5 separate regions of the Homo sapiens genome follow, and all the other regions are linked to region 5. Evidence: fine-mapped expression QTL. A gene starts in region 5. Each other region holds a variant in brackets. All regions are shown on one strand. Distances are between the middles of the regions.

The links.
Region 1: its variant is fine-mapped to the expression of RGS6 in whole blood (TOPMed, PIP 0.91).
Region 2: its variant is fine-mapped to the expression of RGS6 in whole blood (TOPMed, PIP above 0.99).
Region 3: its variant is fine-mapped to the expression of RGS6 in tibial nerve (GTEx, PIP above 0.99). The same link has a PIP of 0.9 or more in adrenal gland.
Region 4: its variant is fine-mapped to the expression of RGS6 in lymphoblastoid cells (GTEx, PIP above 0.99).

The regions. Positions count from the first base shown.
Region 1 is chr14:71,958,533-71,963,638 of GRCh38, reverse strand. The region is part of intron 1 of RGS6 (regulator of G protein signaling 6); the gene reads right to left. Among named protein-coding and RNA genes, the nearest start is that of RGS6, 29 kb to the right of the region's middle. The variant C/T (reference allele first, on the strand shown) is at 3,031.
Region 2 is chr14:72,405,928-72,411,033 of GRCh38, reverse strand. The region is part of intron 3 of RGS6 (regulator of G protein signaling 6); the gene reads right to left. It overlaps LOC105370559 (a long non-coding RNA gene), which reads left to right. Exons shown (of 4, transcript XR_944018.3): 3 at 5,031-5,106. Among named protein-coding and RNA genes, the nearest start is that of MIR7843, 110 kb to the left of the region's middle. The variant A/G (reference allele first, on the strand shown) is at 2,884.
Region 3 is chr14:72,095,376-72,100,481 of GRCh38, reverse strand. All of the region lies in intron 2 of RGS6 (regulator of G protein signaling 6), which reads right to left. Among named protein-coding and RNA genes, the nearest start is that of RGS6, 170 kb to the right of the region's middle. The variant A/T (reference allele first, on the strand shown) is at 3,105.
Region 4 is chr14:72,489,512-72,494,617 of GRCh38, reverse strand. All of the region lies in intron 12 of RGS6 (regulator of G protein signaling 6), which reads right to left. Among named protein-coding and RNA genes, the nearest start is that of MIR7843, 25 kb to the left of the region's middle. The variant C/T (reference allele first, on the strand shown) is at 2,857.
Region 5 is chr14:71,929,450-71,934,555 of GRCh38, reverse strand. It overlaps RGS6 (regulator of G protein signaling 6), which reads right to left and starts at 2,127. Exons shown (of 18, transcript NM_001204424.2): 1 at 1,615-2,127. It overlaps LOC124903404 (translation initiation factor IF-2-like), which reads right to left and starts at 2,630. Exons shown (of 2, transcript XM_047432046.1): 1 at 2,531-2,630; 2 at 1,666-2,387. The coding sequence starts at 2,630. The coding sequence ends at 1,666. RefSeq lists silencers at 1,879-2,038, 2,059-2,338.

The DNA.
Region 1 (5,106 bases), 29 kb before region 5:
GCTAAGTGTAAAAAGCCAGACACAAAACGTCACATATTGCTGGAGTCTATTTTTATGAAATATCCAGAATAGGTAAGTCCACAGAGACAAGAAACAGATTGGTAGCTGCCAGTAGCTGCAGGGAGGATGGAATGGGTGACTGCTTAATGGATACAGGGTCTCCTTCAGGGGCCTTGATAGAGGTGATGGCTGTAGAACACTGTGAAAGCATGAAATGCCACTGAATTATACACTTTAAGATGGCTAATTTTGTGTTATGTGAATTTCACCTCAATTAAGAAAAATAAATATATTTAATGTGGCCTTTTTGAAAAGCCTGAAAAGATAACAGTGAGATAAGAACAAGTATATGGAAGTTTTGAGTGAAGAAGGAAGTTCAATCCTTGGTATGACACTATATTTATTGTGTGACCTTGAGCAAGTACAAGAATCTTTTGGGTTTCTTTTGTTAATTTCCCTTTAAAACAAACATACCAAACACCTGCTATATGCTCTGAGTCATGCCAAGGCACCTTCCTCTACATTGTCCTCAGCAGTAAAATGTGAATTCCACCAAGTTCCCCGCAGGTAAGGGTCAAATAAGCTGAGTATGAGAGCAGAGTATAAAGCCATAAAAGTCCTATACAAATGTTATCCCTCATCTAAGAGGCTGCCTGGGTTATTTGCACAAAATTCAGAGGCTTTTCATCAAAGAAACTCTTATAAATACCATACGTGACAGAAAAGGCCATTTCAATTCAAAATACAAATTCAGGAAACATTTTATTATAAAACAAGTTGCTACCAAAGGTCATTCCATAAAAACAAATTTGGGTGGAAAATGGGAGAGAGAGGAATTTGTAATTTATGCTAAGAATTTAATTGCCGAAAATATCCCATTCGAATAACACTACCTGCTTTCTTCACTATTTATAAATTACAATGTTTTTTAAAATTAGATTACATAAAGAGGTAAAGAGCATCATTCTATAATATTATCTCTATACACTGTAATATCAGGATTTCTATGAATATAGTACTACATGGAAACACTGATTACCATTCTAACCAATGGCTTTTAAAATTAAATGAACAACACACAGTTTTATTTTTAAACAACTACTTAGTTGCCTACTCCTTTGCCTTAATACAGAATACAACAGAGCATGAAAACAAAAATTGAGTTCATTTATATATACTCATGTATCCATGTAATAGAGACGTTTTAAGTTTCTGTCGCTTTATTTTAAAATGAACACTTTAATGAGCACATTCTCTTCTATCTAGAAAACTGTATTATAATAGCAAGGTTAGAAATGACCTAGAAACAAACGTGTCAGGCCTCCCTCTGCCCGGCCTCCCTCTGCCCAGCCACCCCCTCCCACCAACAGAAGCATTTGTGTGTGTTAAAACAGGCTGATGTTCCAGAGTCTAGACTGGAAACTACTAAGTGAATGCAGATAGTCTCTGTGTGAAGAATTTTAGTAAGCCTCGTATTCAGTAGAAATGTTTCTATTTTTGGTTCCTCTATTAACTCGTTTTGAAACTCAGACAAGCTATTTAGCTTTCCTGTGTCTAGAAAGAATCATTTCTAAAATAATAATATACTTTCTAGTCCATAGGTCAACAGATGTTATAGAGAACTGGATGTGAAACCTACATAGGTAAAGATTTTCTAATTAAATTCATTGACTATTAAAGCTGGGGCTTGTGAAATTAAAGGACTAGGTTTTCATTCATTATAGTATGATGTAAAATACTTCTTTTAAATGGAGTACAATAGAAATGGGTTTAAATTTAGTGGTAGAGAAAAACAGAATGTTCTTCATTGTACTTATATATACATATATATACACACAGTAAACAACCCAGGGGCTTCAATATTAACATTTGAAGAATGTGAACATTTTTCTGAAAACATGTAACTGCATACCAAAAGAAAGAAAGCATGTTAATATTATTTTCCTATATGGACTCACAGCTAACCCAAGAGGAAAACTGAAAATGGGCTAGGACCTTGCATTTCACAGTCTTCAAGAAGAGACAATACAGCTTGATGGTTACAAGATGCCTCTCATTAGACAGATCCATGTCCAAATCCAGGCTCCACCACTTCCTAGCTGTGTGATCTTAGGCAAGTTCCTTCTCCTCTCTGTGCCTTTAATCTGTTATCTGTCACACACCATAGCCCCAGCATAGTGGAAAGCCCTCTGAACTAGGAGTCCTGGTATCACCCCACCCCTAGCTCCTTTGCAACTAACCAACTATCAGAACCAGGACACACAGCTTCCCTGGACCTCAGTTGGGCATTGGCTATAAAATCCAGCAACCTTAGAGTTCCTTCCAGCTCTGAGCTAGACCCTCAGAACCTCACATTTCTAACTTTCCTTCAAAGGTTCTCACCAGAATGTTCCATGCCACGTGTCTCTGTCAATACTGCCTATATCCCAGCCCATCTCCTCTATTCATGACAGCACTCAATGTCTCAAAGAATAAATCACAAAACCACTGCGGTGGAGCATCCCCCATCTGACTCAGCATCCCTCCCCATGACGGAATTCCTATACCACACCACCCACCCTCAGGTTCTTTGGAACTCATCATTTATTCTTTGAGCAAATATACTGAGCATCTACTTTTGTAAGGTTCCATGCTAGGCCCTGGGGATATACAGATAAGTCAGACACAGATCCTCTCCTTAAAATGTTCAGAGACCGGTAGGAATAACAGATGTGTTCACAGAAAGGACACTGTAATATGTGGTTGCTCAATTATGATGGCACAGAGTAGGAGGAGGTGACAGATGAGCAGAAGCCTGGGAGAGGCAAAGTTTGCCATTCCAGCCAAGGCTATGCACACACACAGGCATAGAAATCTGAAGCCCCAGAAGCGGCTCAGCTTTGTGCTAGACAGTCAAGAGAAAAAAGCCACAAAGATAATCTGATCCCAGAAAGATTAAGTGGGAGACAGCCAAGTGTGGAGAGTGAGATAACAGGGATTCGCAACTATCTGAATCTGCGGGACTTTGTTTACTTGTCTATCAGGGACTTC[C/T]TCTCTAGAAAGTCAGTTCTTCATAGGCAGGGACTTTATCGTTGGGGTTCACCCCTCTCTCCCTGGCACCTAGAGCAGAACCTGGCACATAGAAGGTACTTAAATATGTTTGAATGAATGATGGAACTGATAAAATTCCACCAGGATGCAGTGTCCTCCTTCCAGAAGATTCATCTGGATAACAAGCCATTAAAAGTGGCCAATAAAGAAGACTCTTGATCAACAAAGACCCATGTATAGCATCACACATAAAGATTTTCCCCAAGGTTTATTGATATGAACCAGCCTGGACTCAGCAATCCACTTCTGGAATTCATAAGCAATTTAGGTAAGAAGGAATATGTGGTGAGGGAAGAAAATATAGTGAAGGGGATGCTCTATGCATAATAGGACAATTGAGCACCTGTGACACAAACAGATTCGTGAATCATTGAAAGTCAGGATTGTGCCTGCAAGTCTACTCCAAACTGACACTGCATCTGTAACTTGCAGTTACAATAAATGCCTGCTGTTTACTTTATAATGCCAGCCCCTCTGGAACAAGCAAAGCCTAGGGTTCGGCAGCTAACAATGTTGAGCAGAGCAGGAAGGAAGGGCCTCGATGGTATAGGAAAAGGAAGGGCTTTGAAGTCAGACTGGGAATCACATCTCAGCTCTAGCCTCATTAAGGCTACTATGTGGCCTTTGACAATGGGCTCTCCCACCCTACGTTTCCAGCTCCTTGCCTGGAAGATGAGACCCCTCCATCACGCAGGGTTGCTTTTGAAGAGGGAAGACACTAAGTCATGGAAATGCCCCAGCACAGAATGAATATCGAAACTGACCAGTGACCTTGTTCTAAGCCAGGGTTTGGCCAAGTGAAATTCCCAGGCCACTGGCATCAGATTCAATGGAGAATCCCACCCCAACCCCCACCCTCAGATGTTCTGACTCGTGCATCAGAGATGAAGCCTTCAGCGGTCCAACAACCTCCTCAGGTGATCCTGACACAGAGCTAAGAGGAGAACCAACTACAATTACCCTACAATGTCACTGAAATTACCATGGCTTGCAACTAAATGCTTTAAACATCATGCCTGCCACTCTTAGTGCCCAGCCCTCAAAACCCTATTCAGGGAAATGCCATGTAGGAGAAGCAATCAAACTCTGACTGTAATATAGTTTGAATATTTATGCTGCCAAATAAGAATTTCTGTTGAAGTTATTTCCTCTCCTCCATATTATATCAAATTCTCATTGTTTGCCTCAGCCCATTAAAACCCAATGGATTTTTTTTTTCTGACATCAGCAACGTTAAGCACTTCAGGAAAAAAAATTTACAAGATGTGTGCTAGCTCAGTAGTACGAGCTTGTTTATATAGCTCTAATCTGACTGAGTGGGCAGGAATCCCAAGGGGAAAGAAGGAAGAACAACAGCTCTAAATAACAAATCACTCTTCCTGTTATAGCAGAGTATGCCAACTTGACATTTCCTATATATTCGAAGTTCAAATGTTCAATGACAGACAGAGTGTCCGTTTCAGGTAATGCACCAAGATCTTAAAGTACGGCAATAGCACTCAACCCCTAAAGGCCAATTTTGGTGGCACTGGAAGACACCCAGTATTTTACTGGGATATAATCACTTAATCATTTTAGGACATCGATTAGAATTCAGTGGTTCCCAAAAACTTGCCCAAGGACCGGAACTAGGCTAGCAGTCTCAGAATAACCTGGGAGATATTCTAAATATACATACTCCCGGTTCCCATGCTCCAGAAGTTCTGATCCAATAGGCCTAGGGTGGTCCCTGGAGATTTACAGATTAACCATTTTCCAGATGATTTGTAAGTACAGCCAGGTTTGGAAACCGCTGACCTAGATTCCATGGAGCCTGCCTTCCCTTCACTTGATCCCTTCCTCCCATCCCATGCTGCCTGATGTTTGGGCAGACATGCTAATGGGGGGGCTCCTTTAGCTTCCCATGTATTAAGGCAAAAACTCAATGAAATGGATACAACAAGGTTCTGGGGTCAAAAAAAACTGGCTTTCAATCCTGGCTATATCATTTAAGTGCTGTGTGGCCGTAAGCAACAT
Region 2 (5,106 bases), 480 kb before region 5:
CCTAAGCCAAAAGAACAAAGCTGGAGGCATCACGCTACCTGACTTCAAACTATACTACAAGGCTACAGTAACCAAAACAGCATGGTACTGGTACCAAAACAGAGATATAGACCAATGGAACAGAACAGAGCCCTCAGAAATAATGCTGCATATCTACAACTATCTGATCTTTGACAAACCTGACAAAAAGAAGAAATGGGGAAAGGATTCCCTATTTAATAAATGGTGCTGGGAAAACTGGCTAGCCATATGTAGAAAGCTGAAACTGGATCCCTCCTTTACACCTTATACAAAAATTAATTCAAGATGGATTAAAGACTTACATGTTAGACCTAAAACCATAAAAACCCTACAAGAAAACCTAGGCAATACCATTCAGGACATAGGCGTGGGCAAGGACTTCATGTCTAAAACACCAAAAGCAATGGCAACAAAAGCCAAAATTGACAAATGGGATCTAATTAAACTAAAGAGCTTCTGCACAGCAAAAGAAACCACCATCAGAGTGAACAGGCAACCTACAGAATGGGAGAAAATGTTTGCAACCTATTCATCTGACAAAGGGCTAATATCCAGAATCTACAATGAACTCCAACAAATTTACAAGAAAAAAACAAACAACCCCATCAACAAGTGGGCAAAGGATATGAACAGACACTTCTCAAAAGAAGACATTTATGCAGCCAAAGAACACATGAAAAAATGCTCATCATCACTGGCCATCAGAGAAATGCAAATCAAAACCACAATGAGATACCATCCATCCCACACCAGTTAGAATGGCAATCATTAAAAAGTCAGGAAACAACAGGTGCTGGAGAGGATGTGGAGAAATAGGAACACTTTTACACTGTTGGTGGGACTGTAAACTAGTTCAACCATTGTGGAAGTTGGTGTGGCGATTCCTCAGGGATGTAGAACTAGAAATACCATTTGACCCAGCCATCCCATTACTGGGTATATACTCAAAGGATTATAAATCATGCTGCTATAAAGACACATGCACATGTATGTTTATTGCGGCACTATTCACAATAGCAAAGACTTGGAACCAAGCCAAATGTCCAACAATGATAGACTGGATTAAGAAAATGTGGCACATATACAACATGGAATACTATGCAGCCATAAAAAAGGATGAGTTCATGTGCTTTGTAGGGACATGGATGAAGCTGGAAACCATCATTCTCAGCAAACTATTGCAAGAACAAAAAACCAAACGCTGCATGTTCTCACTCACAGGTGGGAACTGAACAATGAGAACACATGGACACAGGAAGGGGAACATCACACACCGAGGACTGTTGTGGGGTTGGGGGAGAGGGGAGGGATAGCACTGAGAGATATACCTAATGCTAAATGATGAGTTAATGGGTGCAGCACACCAACATGGCCATGTATACATATGTAACAAACCTGCACATTGTGCACATGTACCCTAAAACTTAAAGTATAATAATAATAAAATTAAAAAAAAATAGGCAGTTGCCACTTTGTAGATCATAAATAAAAGTGATGTTAAAAAAATTTTAATTGGGAGGTCATTAAGCCGAAGCATTCCCAGCACTTTAAGTTCCTAGGTAAGCAAACCAAAGCCCAATGTGAACAGTAAAATGAAACTAGAGAAGTTACCATCAGAAACCTCCAACTAACCTCTAACTAGGGACTTTCTACTCTAACAAATCAAATATGTTTTCTTTGTCTTACTTCCACGTTCCGCCTATTAAAGCTCACTACCCATGCTGCTGGGTAGAGCTCTCTGAACCTTTTCTGGTTCTGGGTGCTGCCCAATTCATGAATCCTCTAATGCTCACATAAACTCTGTTAAAAGTATTGTGTCCAGTGTTTTTCTTTTAACAGTGGCAAAAAGACTAACTTACAGGTTCCATTTTTGTTGACTTGAATCTTTCGACTCTGAACAAGAGGGACCCCTCACTGGAATCTCTGTTTTTATTATGATTTTTATATAATGTGCTAGTTTTTACAGAAGTAATTCAAGTGTACTCCGACATATATGGCTTAAAAACTTTGATTCATCAGAATAAGAGTCATTTTCTATTTTACACTCTACTTTCTGCTACAGAATTATTTCCAGTTGTCATGTATTAAGATGGAACCCAAAGAAGACATCATCCAGCAAGGTGTGTCCCAGGTGTCCATGCTACAGGGCAGGCACCCTATGATGACTCCATCCTCCCATCATTTTTATCCTGCCAAATTGCTATAAAACTAGTTCAATAAGCTTGCCATGACTTTAACAGAAATGCACCGATTATGTAATATGTCCTTTTCTGTTCTTTATCATTAGATTGTGACAGTTAACATAGTATGTGCCTCTAATGTACTATGCCATTTCCATGATGCCAAATTGATTCAATATATACTCTAAGAAACTAAACTCTTGGTCTATAAAAAAGTCATTCAACTGTGAACGCTCATGGCAAAGGAGTTTTGCTTTTGTACCTGATGATAGAGTCCCACACAACACAAAATGAGGACAAGACAGATTTTATCAACCCAATGACAGTCAGATGTGTCTTGCAAACATTTAAAGTCAAGTGATGTGATTTTAGATGAAGTCTTGGTTACCTACAGGACTGAGAACAAAGGCACTGAAATCTCATGACAGCACTCAGTTATAAGGTGATCATCTAGGGTTTATCTGTACATTATTATACTAAACAATGAAAAGATTATCATAAAAAATTTTTAAGTTATCATCAAAAAACACACAATTGGAAAAACTAGTAGAATTTGCAAGTCATCTGAGAACCACCAGGGGTCTGTGGATCTTAGTATAAACAGACTCGAGTTGATCTAAAACTGCTGAGTGCAAGTCAGTCTTCAGAAGATACAGCTTTGCCAACTACGCTGTAACAACAG[A/G]AAAGGACTCTTTATCATTTCCTTTAAATAGTAAGTGTTATAAGTGGATAAACAAGCATGAGTCGGTTTGTTAAAACTTGATTTAAATACAACTTTTTTGGGAGCATATCCTTCATATAAAGCAAGAGCCAATTACTCTGACTCTCTCCAGTGGAGCAGAGGGGAAGGCCGCCTGTAATGAGAAAGCAAAGTAAGCCTGGAGGTTTCATAGTTGGCTATACAGTTTCCAATATAGGGCTCCTTCTCATAGTTTGGTCTACCTCCCTATTTAACACAGACTGCAACAAATGTTAGAATAAAAGTAAAACACAAGTCAAGAAAGCAACAGTAGTAATGGTGCTCTTGATCTGTTGAGAGGCCATGAGATGATCCAGCCATAATAGCAATGAGCTATTTCCCTTGCACTTCAAGTACTGGGGGAGGATTTTAATGTCATTGCACTAGAGAGGTTCTGTCATCTGTGTTTCACACAAGGTCAGATTCTAAAGTAACATTTCCTGACAAAGGGGGCTTTAGAAGCCTCTCCCGGTTTACTGTCTAGAATAACACGGACCTTGAGGGGATTACGTGGCAGTTAAAAAATACAGCACTCAACAGCACTCACAATCATGTTTGACCAAATATCTGAGTACTTAGTGGCAAATGCAGATCTTGGGGTTTCTCAGCCTCCGTAATCACATGAGCCAATTCTTTACATAAATCTCTTTATACACACATACAGACACGTAGCACTCATTAGAAAGACATTAGGAACAGCAATACCATAGGACATCCAGAGGGAAGCAGAGCTTTCCATTGACATCAACCAATAAAGACTCCAAGACGGTTCTCCAAACGACAAGCCTACAAGCAAAGACTATGATGTAGCTATGAGGATCATGCAGCTCAGCACAGGCAGTGTGGGGCAATGCTGCATGGACACAGAGAGAATGCAGATCCTCCCAGAACTATCATTCTTTTACCACATGAGTTAAAGGTGGTCACCAGCTTTTAAGAGAGGAACACCTAGGGTCTTGGTATTAGAACCTACAATACAATAGGACATGATACATTACAAACCAATGTAATTAATTATGAACAGTATGTAACAACATCAATGTAACTAAAGAAAATTGTACATACAGTTTTCATTACCCAATGTGGCTTTGGTTATTCTCACCGGTTATTTTCATAAAGTCTGAGTTAATGTTACATGGAGATATCTGGACAATGTGGACCAACCTGACTATTGAGATCATGGCTGGATATCCACATGGTGGGCACAACCCAAGCTGCAGCCATGCCTACCCTTCATTCTCCTTACTGAATACGGCTTTAAGGAGGCTGACTTCCCTCCGAGTCCAAAGGTGCCTACTGGTACCTATAAATACATTTGTGTGGTGGCTGGTTTGGGAGTTTTGTCCCCAAAATACTAAGATGAACATACCTATACTGTTGCATATCTATTGCAAGTCAGTAACAGACATTGCCAAACACAAAGAAAACACAAAATTGCACTCCAGCTCTATAAAGGGAGCTTTCCCATCTTTAGGAGAAATCTGGTAGCTAGTGGCAGAAACTGACACCCACCCCCTGACTTCCAGCCTTTACTCCCTTCATAAACAATTGACGAGCTTTGGGAGCCTCTACACCTCTGTGCAGCTCCAGTTCCTGGTCACCAGAACCTACACACGACTGCCTTTGCCTGTTTTCACAGAAGTGTTCAGACATAAGCAACAAACTGCTTATTTGATGTTGTGCTAAATAGCAGTTTCTTATTTTTTTTTTTGAGATGGAGTCTCACTCTGTCACCAGGCTGCAGTGCAGTGGCACGATCTCATCTCACTGCAACCTCTGCCTCCCGGGTTCAAGCAATTCTCCTGCCTCAGCCTCCCAAGTAGCTGGGACTACAGGCGTGTGCCACTGCGCCCGGCTGATTTTTGTATTTTTAGTAGAGATGGGTTTCACTATGTTGGCCAGGATGGTCTTGATCTCCTGACCTCATGATCTGCCTGCCTCGGCCTCCCAAAGTGCTGGGATTACAGGCATGAGCCACTGTGCCTGGCCCTTATTTCCTCTTTTGCAGCTAAGAGCCTTTCCTCCAGGTGACTGGATAATTTTCTCTAAACATCCTCCTTCCTTCACCCTCTCCCATTTATTGTCTACAGTAACCTTAACATCTGGACGCAGACAGCCCCAGCAATCCTGGAGGAAACCTTGGAAATACGCGGGTCATCTTCTATG
Region 3 (5,106 bases), 170 kb before region 5:
GCTCTATTGCCCAGGCTGGAGTGCAGTCGTGCAATCTTGGCTCACTGTAACCTCTGCCTCCCAGGTTCAAGCGATTCTCCTGCCTCAGCCTCCCGAGTAGCTGGGATTACAGGTGTGCACCACCACGCCTAGCTAATTTAGGAGAGAGGAGGTTTCACCATGTTGGCCAGGCTGGTCTTGAACTCCTAACCTCAAGTGATCTGGCCACCTAAGCCTCCCAATGTGCTGGGATTACAGGCCTGAGCCACCACACCCAGCCCCTTATATTCTTTCTTATCCATGCTGCCGTCCAAACTGTAAAACTGGAAATCACTCCCGTCTTTTACCAGGCCTTGCCATTACTATCTTCTAAGTCTCTCTCAAACCTACCCCTCTCTTCACCGTCCCTTTAGTTCAAGCCCCAAGCAACTCTCCCCTGTACACAACAGTCTCAACCAATTTTCCTGACTCTTACTACTGTGCTGGTGACCCGCTCTCTGCTTGGCTTTCGGAACCAAATCCATGAAACAGCAACCTGATTACGACATTCCCATGTTTAGGATCTTTCAAGAAGTCCCCATCACTCACACAGTAATACTCAGTTTCCCAAGTAGAAACGGGGAGAGTAATACAGTTTGAAAGTGCTTACTACATTTGGCACTGTAAGTGCTCAACAAAAGTAACCATGACTACTAACTACTAATGACTATCACTACTGTCACTTTCACAAAAAGGAACAAGTCTAAAGACAAATAATCCCCGCCAAAGCTATGAGGAAGAGTGGCAGAGAGTTCCTTACATGGTCAACAGCAGAGCTGTCTGAATACAACTGTCCCAAGCTTTTTCTAGGGTAAGAATGCTCCCTGGAAATGGGTGTTTCTATCTGAGAGCTCATTGAAGTCCTCCCAAAACAGACATTTAAAGAAAATGATATTGTCCTGGGAACAAATCTTACAGATGTGTGACTCCCTCCACCTGTGCCTAAGGTGAAACATTAGCTAGTCTACTTCCTGGCTGTGTGACCTGGTATTAAAGCTGCTTCTAGGCAGGGTGCGGTGGCTCATGCCTGTCATCTCAGTACTTTGGGAGGCCGAGGCAGGCAGATCACCAGGTCAGGAGGTCGAGACCATCCTGGCTAACACGGTGAAACCCCGTCTCTACTAAAAATATAAAAAATTAGCCGGGCATGGAGGCTGGTACCTGTAGTCCCAGCTACTCGGGAGGCTGAGGCAGGAGAATGGCATGAACCCAGGAGGCAGAGCTTGCAGGGAGCCGAGATCGCACCACTGCACTCCAGCCTGGGTGACAGAGAGACTCCATTTCAAAAAACAACAAAAAAACTGCTGCTCATCTGTAAGATGGAGATAGTAAAAGCACCCATCTCAGAGTTGTGAGATCAATGAGTTTATACTTAGAACAGTAACTAATATATAGTAAATACTCAATACAAACAGACTGTTCGATCCTTGTTGAATAAATCAAATCATGAAAAAGCCATACAATTCTAAGGATGCATGGACAGAGACTGATGCCCCTTAAAATGTGCACAATAAGAAAGAAATCCGCACAGAAGTTCTTTGTATACCAGGTTTGTTTGTGTGTGCCCTGTGGGTACTAGGGCTCTACGCACTTAGCAGTACAGCAGCACATATGATAGACATTTTCTAGAACAACTTACCCACCAATGAGGCAGGTGACACAAATGAAAGAGGAGAACATGCAGTACCATTTTACAGGAAATGAGGGAAGGGAGGCTCATTCTGTGTGAAGGGAATAGTTACTGCTTGGTTAGAAGCAATTTTTGGTAATTGGGACTCAATTTTGCCAAAACTTCCAAATTTTTGAGGGAAACTGGAACTCTGTATTTTTATGTACAGTCTCCTGATAAATGTTGGCAACTCTTTCAATTATCTCCAAAAATCCTGTGCCTGTCAATCAAAATATATCTGCAAGAAAAATTTGGTCCAAGCTCTGACAGTTCGTGCTCATTAAGCTAAAAAAGAACAATGCCACTAAACTCTGCCCCTGTCCACACCGTCAAAAGAACAAATGCCCCCTGCCTGATGGCATGAAGGCACGGGGAGTGCTAGTGTTCAGCAGATAAACAATAGTGGCACCTGCCACATGTCCACACGACTTCACCCCTTTCAGGGGACAGAGAAAAAGCAAGGACAGGAGCCTATTATCTTAGCCAAGAGGCCAGGGAAATGAAATTACAGGAAATGCTGTGACATCAAGGTACCAGAGGGCTCTGAGAGAAGGGTCCAGAGGGTTCAAAGAGGACCTCCAGGAGGACAGGGGTCCCAAACCAGACCCCGAGGATGGGGGCGGTTTTGGAAAACATGGAGGGGGTTGCTCTAGGTGACAGAGGTGAAATGAACAACAGCACAGCTATGTCAGGATATTATAACATCTCCCCCACCCCAGGCTTTTGGAAAAGCTTATATGGTCCAGTTTGTTATTTTTAGAATTTGCTATGTGTGGGTCCAGGAGAGGTATAAGCCACCTAACACAATTGCTACCAGACATTGGAAAAATGACCCAGACATCGACATAGTTGACTATACATTCCCGCTTTCAAAGTTTTGCCAAACCTCTGCATCCTACACGTTGCTTGGCTGATGATATCAGGCTAAGAGCTGGTCCCTGCCACTAAGGAGCTACAATCTGAGGAAGGAATACAGAGACAAAGTGATAGGCACAGGAATTGTGGGTGTGGGGGACAAGACGCCACCCTGTCCAGCAAGAAGAGGTGGGCTGCATGCAGAAGCCAGCAGCTGGGCTGCATCTGGGCTAAGTGGGAGTCTTCCCGGCAGAGGAGGGGGAGGAAGGGTGTTCCAGGTAGCAGCAGCAACACAGCCCAAGGTGCAGAATGGTGAAAACTAGTAGTTTACAGCAACAAAGACACCCGCCCCCTTCTCCTCCTCTTCATTCTTGGTCTCTGCTAATTGCGGCCTTCCTGTTTCTTAGCAAGACAGGAATCTCTGGAGATCCCTAAGGATTTTTAAAACTTGCTCTATTGCCATTCATTCAGATGAAAAGCAACAAACATAAAAACCCACCAAAGACCAAAGTAAAGAGAATGATTTAACCTGCCAATGGTACATTCAGATGTGCTTCCTGTA[A/T]CCCTGTGTTCTTGGCACAAAGAAAGATGCTGTTAAGAAAATTAATTCTATTTATTTTGGAATGGAGCATTCTCTGCTCAGCCACTAACACAAGAGGAGATGGCCACACACATAGAATAGAAATTGCACCTCAAAGCTCAGTGTTGGTTTTGATTTGAGCTTGGAATTGTTGCATGTTTTGTTTTTTGTTTGTAACTATTAATATCAAAAGCATTTTTTAAGTTAATGTTTACTTCTTTTTGCTCTGAAAGGACAATACAAAGGTAGAAAGCTGAAGATTTCAACTCACTCCCAATTACTATTGTCAAGTTTCCAATGGCATGAAAAGGACACTCGAGGGTACTAGAATGGCAACTCTTCACATTCTGGGTTCATTCCCTACTACAGACGTGCTGCAGCAGCGGTATCCTCACCCTTTGCTTCTCTTTCTGGCCAGCTTTTGATAACCCTTTCAATCCCCAAGGGAAGAGAAGGAAGGAGACTGTGGTTGTTTGTCTCCAAAGTTGGTCCCTAATGAACCATGCCTCTAGGTATCCACGTCCTTGGGAACTTGCCCCTTCATCTGGGCTGTCCAGCACAACCAACGGAAAGTGGATGCTTCATGACTTGCAAGCTCAGGTTAAAAGCTTTGCAGCAGCCCCCCTGGTCTCTTGGAAACTTCAGCCTCAGAACCCAGCCACCAGACTGTGACAAGCCTAAGCCATATGGAGATGCCATGTGTAGGAGCCCCAGCTGCCATTTAAGAGCCAGGGCATAAGAGACCCCAGTGAGAACCACCCGGCTGAGCTCAGTCAACCCACAAAACCTATGTCTAGAGTACACAGCAAGACATAACCAGAACAGGGATGCCAAGGAAATAAAAGAAAAATATGAAATCAAAGAAGAGTCTTTTCCACCTGTGTACATGATATTGACATTTGTAGCCCAATTGAGGTTTTGTTGTTTTAGCACAGTTGTTAATTATCTTTGGGCTCCTGTTCCCCATGATCACCTAAAGATAATCAAGGCATAAAAGTATGCGTTTTCTGTGAATATATACAGAATTAATAAGCTCTATTTCATACATCTGTGTGTTTTTCTTTTCTTTTTTTTTTTTTAAGACAGAGTCTCACTCTGTAACCCAGGCTGGAGTGCAGAGTGCAGTGGTGCAATCTCAGCTCACTGCAACCTCCACCTCCCAGGTTCAAGCAATTCTCCCTCCCTCAGCCTCCCAAGTAGCTAGGATTACAGGTGCGTGCCACCGCACTCAGCTAATTTTTTTTGTATTTTTTAGTAGAGATGGGGTTTCACCATGTTGGCCAGGCTGGTCTTGAACTCCTAATCTCAAGTGATCCACCTGCCTCGGCCTCCAAAAGTGCTGGGATTACAGGCGTGAGCCACTGCACCCGGCCCTCCTCATTATTTTTAAGGTTCCCTTCTTAGCTGGGAAAAACAAAAGCAAAATCTTCTGAAACAAAGCAAAACTATCTCGTCCCCACTGATACTTTTTATGCAATAAAGTCAACAACCAAATACATTAATGTAGACAATGCACCAGCATTTCCTATCTTTTCATTTCAATTATGGCATTTGCATGACATTGAAATACGGTTTTCCACTTTCATGGTGATGACATTCATTTTTATATTTGCTGCTGCACAGCAAAACTCTATGTGTACAGTACATAACAGGCTGATGACTGGCAGTTACTTGCCCCATCCACATACGTTCCCTCTCTGTTCCTTGTGAATGCTCTCGTCTTTGTTTGAAATCTTAATGTGTCTGTGAAATACCCAATTTTCTGAACTTTCTTTGAAACAGGTGCAGCCAACGTGACACTGTTACAGCCATTTTGAATTAAGAGAGCAAGTCCACTGGGGAGTTCCGATGAAACTTTTGCTGTCCTGACAAAGAAGGAAAGCTGTGGCCAGCACCACCACTTTGCACTTCCCTCCTAGAAAATCTGCAGTCAGACCAGTCATTTTGCAACCCTGAGACAATAAGCCCAACGATAAAGGCTGAA
Region 4 (5,106 bases), 560 kb before region 5:
GATATGTTGATCTTATAGATTGATATAATTTATTTTAGACTAATTTTTATTCTTATCAAAATGTATGTGAATAGTTAGAATAATAAAATAGTACCAAATGATTATATATACTAAAAAAGCAAAAGCAATTATTTTTTCCTCCCATCCCTTCTCAGAGAGGCATCTACTTTCCACCTTATGTTTTTTCTAAAAGCTACCTATATATTTCTAAATTATACGCTTTTATATCTATTCCTGATTTTTTTATTTTAGACAAGAATTTATCTTTCTATTCACCAGTCCTCAACTCCCTCCTTTTCTTACGTGATCCTCCAAATAGATTTGTGTTACAATTTTTGTTAAATCAATGGTCAGTGTAACATTATTAAACTAGATAAAAATTGTTTGCTGTTCAGCTAAATATCATACTACTTTTTCCAAGCAAGTGTTTTAACAAACCTGTAAAACATCTAGCAATCATTTTTTTATACCTTAAACACATCAAATAATTGAGCAGTTCTGTCCTCTTGTTTCCCAGAGATCCTCTTTCCTGAAGTCTTTAGTCTTCTTGCTCGAAACTGGATCATTTGCTCTATAGACTTGATGGAAAATGATCTTTTTGGGACTTCCTTCACTTCTGTGTTGAAAAGCCCATGTTTCCTGGATTCCATGTCTATCTCTTGCTTTTACTCCCTGATTGTGTTGAAGCACATCCTTTAGTAGTTTCGTAATAAAGGATGCATGAGAATCCTTGCAAGTCTAAAAATGCTTTTATCTCCATACTTGACTGATAGTGCTAGACATAGAACACTAGGTGAAAAATCTCTTTCCTTTAGAAATTTGTAGGCATCACTCCATGTTTTTTTTTTTCTGGTATGCAGTGTTACTATTGAGAAGCCTGGATCCATTTTGATTCTCGTTCTTTGGTTCAGTTTCTTTTCTCTCTGTCAACTTAGAATCATCTCTTTATTGCTAGAGTGTTCTGCAATTTCATGATGGCCCTTGCTGGTTGTTGTTATTTACTATGCTGGGCACAGTGTGTGATAGATAAGAAAATAATTATCAGGAATTTTATAGTATTCATCACTAATTTTAAACCCTTTGTTTCCTTTGTTTGCTTGTCCTATATTTTTTTTTCCAGTTCAATATTGGACATCCTGAATTGTTTATTTTCCCTCCCATTTTTCATCTCCTTGTCTTTTTGTTAAACTCTCTTTTAACTATTTATTTATTTTTTAATTTTGAGCCATTACTTTCTAAGTTTCAGAGTTCACTTTTGGTTATCATAGTGTCTAGTTCTTGTTTTATGGATGAAATACCTTCTCATTTCTCAGATAATATGAGTTCTATACTTTTATTGTAAGTTTCTTCCAGTTGTTGAATTATTTTGGTTCTTCCAAGTTCCTTTTTTCTGTCGGTTTATTTTGATTATACTCTTTCACGCTGAGCCTTCCTGGAGTGTCTGGAAAATCTTTGGACATCCATTTGTACTTAAGACTGAGGTACTGAAACCTGCTTGGCGGCTCAGTGGGCGTGTGGATGGGGCTTGTCACTGATGGGCTTCATTGTCATAGGGAAGTTTACCAGTATTTTAATGGGAGCTCCAAATGAGGGATCTGGAGTCTTTCCTCTGGGGCGTCTATTTTTCCCTAGGGCAGGCATTGGCAAGCTTTTTCTGCAGGGCCTAGATAGTAAATATTTTAGGCTTTGTGGGCCAGATGGTGTCTGTTGCCACTACTCAGCTCTACTGCTGTGGCATAAAAGCAGCCATAGACAGCTTGCAAATGAATGCGTGTGACTGTGTTCTAATAAAACTTTATTTGCAAAAACAGAATGGAGTATGGTTTGGCCCACAGGTTGTACTTTGACAGTCTCTTGCCTGTGGGTATATATGTCTGGCTCCTGGAGGCCTGAGAGCAGGGTCGGGGAGGGGCTGAGGGTCTGTTGGGGCTCAGAACATGATACCCTAAAGTATAGTATGTTGGCATGCTGAGTACTTTGAACTAAAGGAGAATGGAAGGGCCTCAGAAGCCAAGGCTTTCACCTTCTCTCCTGCCCCCGTCTCCCATCCCTTTTTCTCCCCCGACGTAAGTCATAGAAACAAGAATTCTTTTTCGCCAAAGTGGGTCATAGAAACTAGAATGCCTCTCCTGCAAAGCAAGCCACAAAACCTAGAAAGGTCACTCGCTCCCTTCTCCCTTGAAAACCCTCATTCCAGAGAGGTCCTACCTGGGAGGTAGGAATGCTACTCAGAGACACTAAGAAGAATCTGAACAGACAGGCCTTGCTGGGTTTCCTCCCCTCAGTCTGTTACCAGTAGATCACACCCTTTTGTCCAATCACATTTCTACAAGGCTTCCCATTCTTCATGGAACCTAAGCACAAATACAGTTTTCCCTGGGTCTTTGAGTCTTCATTTCTGAAGGCTTCTGTGTCATGTGAAACTGATGAAATAAATGCATTTATGCTTTTCTCTTGTTAACCTCTTTTGTTATAGCAGTGTTGGCCGTAATCCTTATGGTAGATGAGGAAAGGTATCACACTTTCCATCCCTACAGGCCCCACAGTTCAGTGCGTAGAGCTTCCATTAATTCTCTTATTTTCAGGTGGCCTCTTATGAGATCTGATGTGTCTGAGATCTGAGCGTATGTGGCTCAATTTCTCTCAAGAAAAAACTGCCCATCTCCTGCAGTGGTGGTAGGTGGGAAGGATTGTTTCCTAGTAGGGCAGGAGATCTAGGGGTGCAAAGTCTCCTGTGACAGACTTGACCATTCCTCTGCTGTTAGCCCCATGCCTCATTCCTGCTTTCCATGGTCCCTAGTGCCTTCAAGAGCCAAGGCCAGGCTTTGTTGCGAAAACTGGCTCACTTTGTCACAT[C/T]ACTTCTGCCCCCAACATGTAGGTTAGAATGTTCTTTACTCTGTCCCTATGCACTTTCTTTTTTATTAAATTTTGAAATATTTCAGGCATACAGAAATGTATAAAAATTGTAAGATTTTACTTTGATACCTTGTACTCGCTGACCAATTAAAAAAATAAAAAATAACAAATACAGACATAGGGGCCTGTGGTTATGTTCCCCAATTACGTAAACTTTGTATCTTGGACAAATGTGTTGAAATTATTAATAGTTTGTTAACCTTGTGAGTTCATGCCATTTTTGTTCCTTTAGTGACATGTTGCATTTGAGGAAAGGGAGAAGATGAACATATGTCTACAATATTGTCTTGGTTGCATTGAGTGACTTTATTACAATTTACTTAATCGTTTCCTTTTTATTAGACACAGATTTTTTTCTTTTTTAATATACATAGTGCTGTGGTAGAACACCGTTGTTCACACAGATTTTTTTTTTTCATCTTCTGGGTTATTTATTTAGAATGCATATCCATAAGCAGAATTATTTGACCAAAAGGTATGAATATTTTTATGGTTATCGATCCACAATAAAATTTTTCCTTAAGCATTGCCAGCTTGTGTGTCAGCATCTTCTCCCACAACAGCAAAGTCAGAGCCACAATTCCTACTACTGAATTGCAAAGGGCAATAATGGCCAATTAGCTTAATGCTGAACAGGCAGAGAAATTAGTCAGAGGTGCCATCTCATGCTACTGGAAGTGTGATCCATAAACCAGCTGCACTGGCATCACCTGGGAGCCTGTTAGCAATGCAGGATCTCAGGTCCCAGCCCAGGCCTCCTGAGTCAGATTCTGCTTTTTAATAGGATCCCCCAGGTGATTCATATGCACATCCAAGTTTGAGAGAACCATATCTCATTCCTCAATTTTCTGAAACATTCAGGACACAAGATGTTTTATTCATCAAATCAAAATGAAAGAGCCCCTGGTAATTTTGGTTTTGAAGATGGATGTAAATTTTCGGACACCTCAGAGCCTCCTCGCTGTCCCAGGTGTTTATCATGACCCCTGGGGTAGAAGCAGCAGTGGTCCCAGTTGAAAAGCCTTAGTTTGAATTCTTGGTTGAGTCATTTAACTGATCTTTGTCAAGTTCATCATGTTATATAACAGGCTTGTTGAGCACTCAGGACCATTGTGATAGAAAATGGGAAAGCATCTCCAAAGAATCTTGACAATCCTCTACAAATATAAAATAGACAAGCGAAACCACGGGCACACTAGAGGCACATCCTCTGTCCTATAAATCTCCTGCAAGGTATGCATCTTCCCTGGGGCCAGGCTTCACCAATAAGAGCTGTATTAGTTTGTTTTCATGCTGCTGATAAAGACATACCTGAGACTGGGCAATTTATAAGAGAAAGAGGTTTAATGGACTTACAGTTCCATGTAGCTGGGGAGGCCTCACAATCATGGTGGGAGGCAAGGAGGAGCAAGTCATGTCTTACATGGATGGCAGCAGGCAAAGAGAGCGAGCTTGTGCAGGGAAACTCCCATTTTTAAAGCCATCAGATCTCATGAGACTTATTCACTATCATGGGAACAGCACAGGAATGACCTGCCCCATGATTCAATTACCTCTCACTGGGTCCCTCTCACAACACATGGGAATTCAAGACGAGATCTGGGTGGGGACACAGGCAAACCATATCAAGAGCTTTACGACATCTCAGGCAGAATGAACCTGGGCAAGGGAGCTGTAAGAAAGCACTATGGCAGGAAGGACCAGGCTACAAGTTGGTGCTGCACCTGGAAGCCACTTCTTAGCTACTTGGGCTGATTGAATTCTTTATAAAAGAAATGGCATTGCATGTTGAGGAATATGTTAGTTTTCTAGGGCTGCAATAACAAATGACCACAAATGGTTAAAACAACAGAAGTTTATACTCGGTTTTGGAGGCTAGAAGTCTGATATCAAGGTGTTGGCAGGGCCATCCTCCCTCCGAAGGCTCTAGGGGATAATTTCACCTCGCCTCGCCTCGTCTCACCTCGCCTTGCCTCTCCTTTCCTTTCCTTTCTTTTCCTTCCAGTTTCTGGTGGCTCCAGGCATGCCTTGGCTTGTGGCTGCATCACTTTCATCTCTGTCTTTGTCTTCACATGGCTTTCTTCTGTGCCTGTGTCATCCGCTCTCTTTTTTGTCTTATGAGGACACTTGTCATTGGATTTGGAGTCTCTGGATAATCCATAATGATTTATGTAGATATCCTTAACTGAA
Region 5 (5,106 bases):
AAGATGAATTTATTGCTTCAAAGAAAATCTAGTCTTGTTTTACTGAAACTCTCAGCAATATAAATTCAGTGAATGTTAACTGAAATTCCTTAAAGAAAATCAGAAGTAAAGTTAAGATCTGCCAGAATAAATATATAAAAGGAAACACTGGTGGCCTCTCTCCTTCATCACAATACCTCCCAACAGCTGACATTTATAGAACTTGCAGACTCTTTCAGGAAAGGATGAGTTATTGGGAATAGACTCTCTCTACATATATATAGTTTATGGTGCATGAGATCATATTTACAGGACAATTTAGCTTAAGAGTGGTACAATATCAAAGAACTTAGAATTTATCATCTATAGCATGCGAGATTTGGCTTGCAAAGGTTTCTCTCTCAAGAGTCTCACCAAATGTCCCTCAGCCCTCTACTTTCCTTCACAGAGTAGTCCCACCCATTGAAAAAGTGATAAATTAAGAATAAAGAATATACATCTTACAGAAAGTTTCCCACCATAGTCCCAGTTCCCACTCTATGTAATTACCTATTTGCCTATGAAAATTGATATGTAAGAGCCGTGTTGTCAACACATTTAACTAAACCTAACAGTTTCCTTTCAGTCTTAACACTTTTTGACAGACCATACACACACAAACTTGTAGCTCATTCTCTAACTCCATTTTGATACTTACAAGCCCAGTTCTTCCATCTCTCACCCTCCCTGGAAAGAAAGTCCAGTGGAAGTTTTACCTAAACTTGATTATTTTTGCGTTTTTCTTTGGGGTTGTTAAAGGTATTGATCAGAACTCACCTCCCAAGCATTGATAATCCCAAGCCGACGAGACCCCAAATATCTTCAGTTTGTAACATAGAAATGCTACTGGTCTCAATGACAGAGAAGGAAAATAACGTTCCTACTCCGTCAAATTAAGAAACAAAAATGAAATACAGCAGCTTTCATTCTGAACAAAACTAAATTTTCTGGGTCACTTTCCCTGTCTCACTGGGCCACTTCTTTACGCAGCCTGCTGGTGACTGTAAACACGGTCTCTTCACTCCTCACGCAACCAGTTCATTTGTCATCCTCTCCAAGCGAATAGCCACCGCTTCCTTTGCTAGCGCAGTTCCCAAACAACAAACCTCCCCACCCGCCCCTGCCCTCCACACCTCACCGCGGAGACTCGCTTTCTTTTCTTCCAAACCACAAATGGGCGAGCTTGTTCAGGGAAAAAGTTAATGAACGCCTGATTAGAGGCAAAGCTGCCCTACCTGCGATCACAACATCGGAAGACTGGAAGTATCTAAAAGCGCCATCCTCTGCGCTCTCGTCCCCGTCGGTGTGCGCTTCACACCCAGAAACCCAGGAACATGATTTATATGCAGACCTGCACCCATCCCACACAAGTCCACACGCCAGCTTGCCTAACCACTTATGTAAGCTCGTGCTTCCACAGTCCCAAACTGCAGACACACACACACGGGCACCTGTCACGCATCTGAAATGGACAAGCACCCACACCCAGGAGATGAAATCAACACATATTAATGGGGTGGGGAGGGAGGATACTGTTTTAAACCATGTTTTTCCCCCATTTGTTTCTTGCCCATTTTTTATCACAACTACAATTACCTTAGCAACCAAAGAATTGCCTTGACTCTCCCTCTGGCTCCAGAATTTTTCCTAAAGCCAACCTTGCGCCAGGTTCATGATAAAGCTGGAGAAGCCCAGGGAACCGGGGACCGGCAGCCTCTTGGGGGCGGAGGGGAAGTCTAGTCCGTCTCCGCGCCGCTCCCCACAGCCTCGCCTCCTCTTTCCGAGTTTCCGTGGTGGCGAGCGCAGGGGCTCAGCGAGCGAAGAGCGAAGCCCCGGGCCCGCGAGGACGCGCGGCGGGTCGCATGGTGCCGGGACTCGGGGCGCACAGGGTGTCCCCGGCGCGCTCCGGGCTGGCCTGGCTCTCCGCGCTCCCAGGCGTTCGCCGCTTGCCCGCCTCTGCCCGCCCCGGTCGGCAAGGGTGCGCGGAGGTCTGTCCGTTCCCTCGGCGCCTGGCGGCTCCGGCGGCTGTAGGAACGCGGCGCCCAGGCGGAGCTCTCGCCGCCGAGCAGGGCCGAGCGCGAGGAGCTGCCCCAACTCGCGAAGCCGTTCAGCTCCGCGGCCCGCGAGCTGCTGCAGCGGCGCCCGCTGTCGGATGCCGAGCGGAGCTGCAGCCCCGTGCCCCGCGCACCTGGGCGCCGGCACCTGGGCCCCGGCACCTGGGCCCGGACCGCGTGCTGCAGGGAGGGGCCGGCGGGCGGGGACCGGCACCTGAGCGCGTCCCGCGGGCGCCGCCGCACGGCTCACCTGTTCCCAGAGCCGCGGAAGGCGCAGACCGTGATTTGCTCGAGGAGGAGAAAACCTAGAAATGCCTCATCCTCAAGAAGCCGCCGAGAAAACCGAGAGACTGGCTCGACCGGGCGGAGGCTGCTTTCGTCAATTCCAAACTGGCCCGGTCCGGAAACTTCAGCGGCGTCAAGGTTCTCTTAGGGATTCCCGGCCCGGGGTGAGGTGCCCGGCGGCTTCTGAATCTCCCTCACTGACGTGTTGCTGGCGCCCTCTAAATTAAAACGGGACACCGCGACCGTCAGCGATATTGTTCCTAACCTCGTCATTTTTATGTATTCAACATGCACACCACACGCTGCATTTGGAATATTACAGGATGATTCCTATCTGGAACACTACAAAAGAACTTTCGAGAAAAGTAACTCTCAGATATTCTTGGGGGAAGCAGAAAAAAGTCGAAGACAGAAAATGAGAAAGTAACTTGAACTGATGCCTTTCTTTAACGTGGGAGTTTTGAAATGCGATGTGTACTTAGATTCAAAAAGCTGCAGGTGGAAATAGGACAAGATCACTAGTGCTGGACGGTAACCGTGGGATTTGTGTGCAATATCAATGCTATCAATATCAAGAATAAATTTGAGATTTAGTCCTGAATTGTAGTATGTCACCAGAAAAGGGGAAAAATACTTGAAATAAAATACCTAAATGCCTTTAACGATGGATGACCTGGACTCCTCATTCACATGGGTCCAGAAGTTAAAGAGTAAAGTCTCCTTCCCAAATTGTGTCTTTTCCCGCCATTCTACATTGATTAATGGATGTATTCATTCTTTCCTTCAATAGACAAATAGCACCTGCTCTGTGTTAGACCCTCTTCTAACATTAGAAATGGATAATAAAGGAAGCAGTCTCTGCCCTGAAGCCTTCACGTCGAATGGGATAACACACAAGCAGACATGTGTGTTATGGTAGGCTTAGTACACAGAAAGGCGGGGGGTGGGGGGAAACCTGCAACCAAGAGAAACCATACCCAGCCTAGTGAGGAAAATAGAATTGTAACAGATGTCCCAGTTGTTTATTAAAGCTGAAATATAAAATCTTTCTTTCCTCAGGCTCAATACTTGGCTCAAGCCGGTTGTGGAGCTGGCTGTGGCCGTTTGTCACAGTTAAAGAATAGGCTGTACATGGAGCGAAAGGTAGCAACTAGGGAAACTTCCGCTTTGAGGAGCTCTGCTTTTTTTTTTTTTTTTTTTTTTTTTTTTTTTTTTTTTTTTGAGACGTAGTTTCCTTCTTGTTGCCCAGGCTGGAGTGTGGTGGTGCAATCTTCGCTCACTGCAACCTCCGCCTCCCAGGTTCAAGCGATTCTCCTGCCTCAGCCTCCCAAGTAGCTGGGATTACAGGTGCCTGCCAGCTAATTTTTTGTGTGTTTTCAGTAGAGATGGGGTTTCACCATGTTGGCCAAGCTGGTCTCAAATTCCTGACCTCAGATGATCCACCCGCCTTGGCCACCCAAAGTGCTGGGATTACAGACTTGAGCCACCACACCCAGTGGGAACTCTGCATTTCTGAGGCTAGCAGCTCCTTGAGGGCCAAGTACAGCATGAAGGAATAATACTGTGGAAGTATAAACAGCAGGCTCCAGGCTCATCAGAAGAAAGCCTTACTGTGTACTTCTCTTTAAAAAAAAATATGTGAAATCAGATATTTATAGGAATTAGATATGTATTTTCATATTGATACATTTTGTGTATTATATGGGATTCCTGATATATCTATGTAGTATGGTTTCTTATACATAAAATATCTGATTTCATATGTATGTGTATGTATGTGGGGGGTATTTTATATATATATGTATGTAATAGAGACAGGACACATTTTTTGCTGACATGGCCAAGAGATTGGTTTATGTGCTAGGGAATTGAGCAAAGAAGTAAATACATTAAGAAAATTGGAGCCAGTCATCTCACTGCTGGAGAAGGGAATTACCAATACAGAAAGGCAAGAGATCTAGCTATGTGCCTTGAAGTTGGAGATGAAGGTGTAAAATGATTTTGGATCCAAAGAGATTATAGATAGATAGACAGAAAAATATAAGTGTATATGTGTGTGTATATGGTGATATATTTCCTAGGTTTGTCGACTGAGAAGGCCTAAAAGCAATGGCACCCCAGTAGCAATGAACACACCTAACACTCAGACCTTGGTTTCTTAATACCATCCTCCACTGAAAGGAACCACAGTTCCTTGGTATAGTGGATGAAACTAGAATAATTTGTTGTGCAAGGAAATGAGAAAATACTTAAAGAATTATGGAGACATGTCAAAAGAAGACAGAAGTCAGCTTGAAGGGGTTCCTGTTGGCCAAATCTTGAACTATTTAAGGAGTAAAATAGTTAATGACAAATTTAACCCTTTGAGTAAAATAAGAGTCCATGAGTCCATGCTGATAGAAACAGAGAAGGGAACTCTATAGTAGAATGCGACTAATAAATGAAGAAGAAAAGATAGAATTAGAAAACCACCATTTGGCAACCACCATCTTAATAATTGATTCAGGCCAGAATCATCAATAAATGCTAAAATTGGTGGGTAAAAGTTTGATGAGGAACAGGATATTTACATAGTCTCAAAGCATATCTCTAAAAATGTTCATTAATACATCATTAATTATTAATAAGTACAGCATACTTATTAACATGCAGCTGTAATACTTGGGAGGTATCATCTTAATCGACTGGTAAAATTTTACATAAATGAAAACCAGTGATGGGACAAATCAGCCTTGTGCAGCATCCTGAT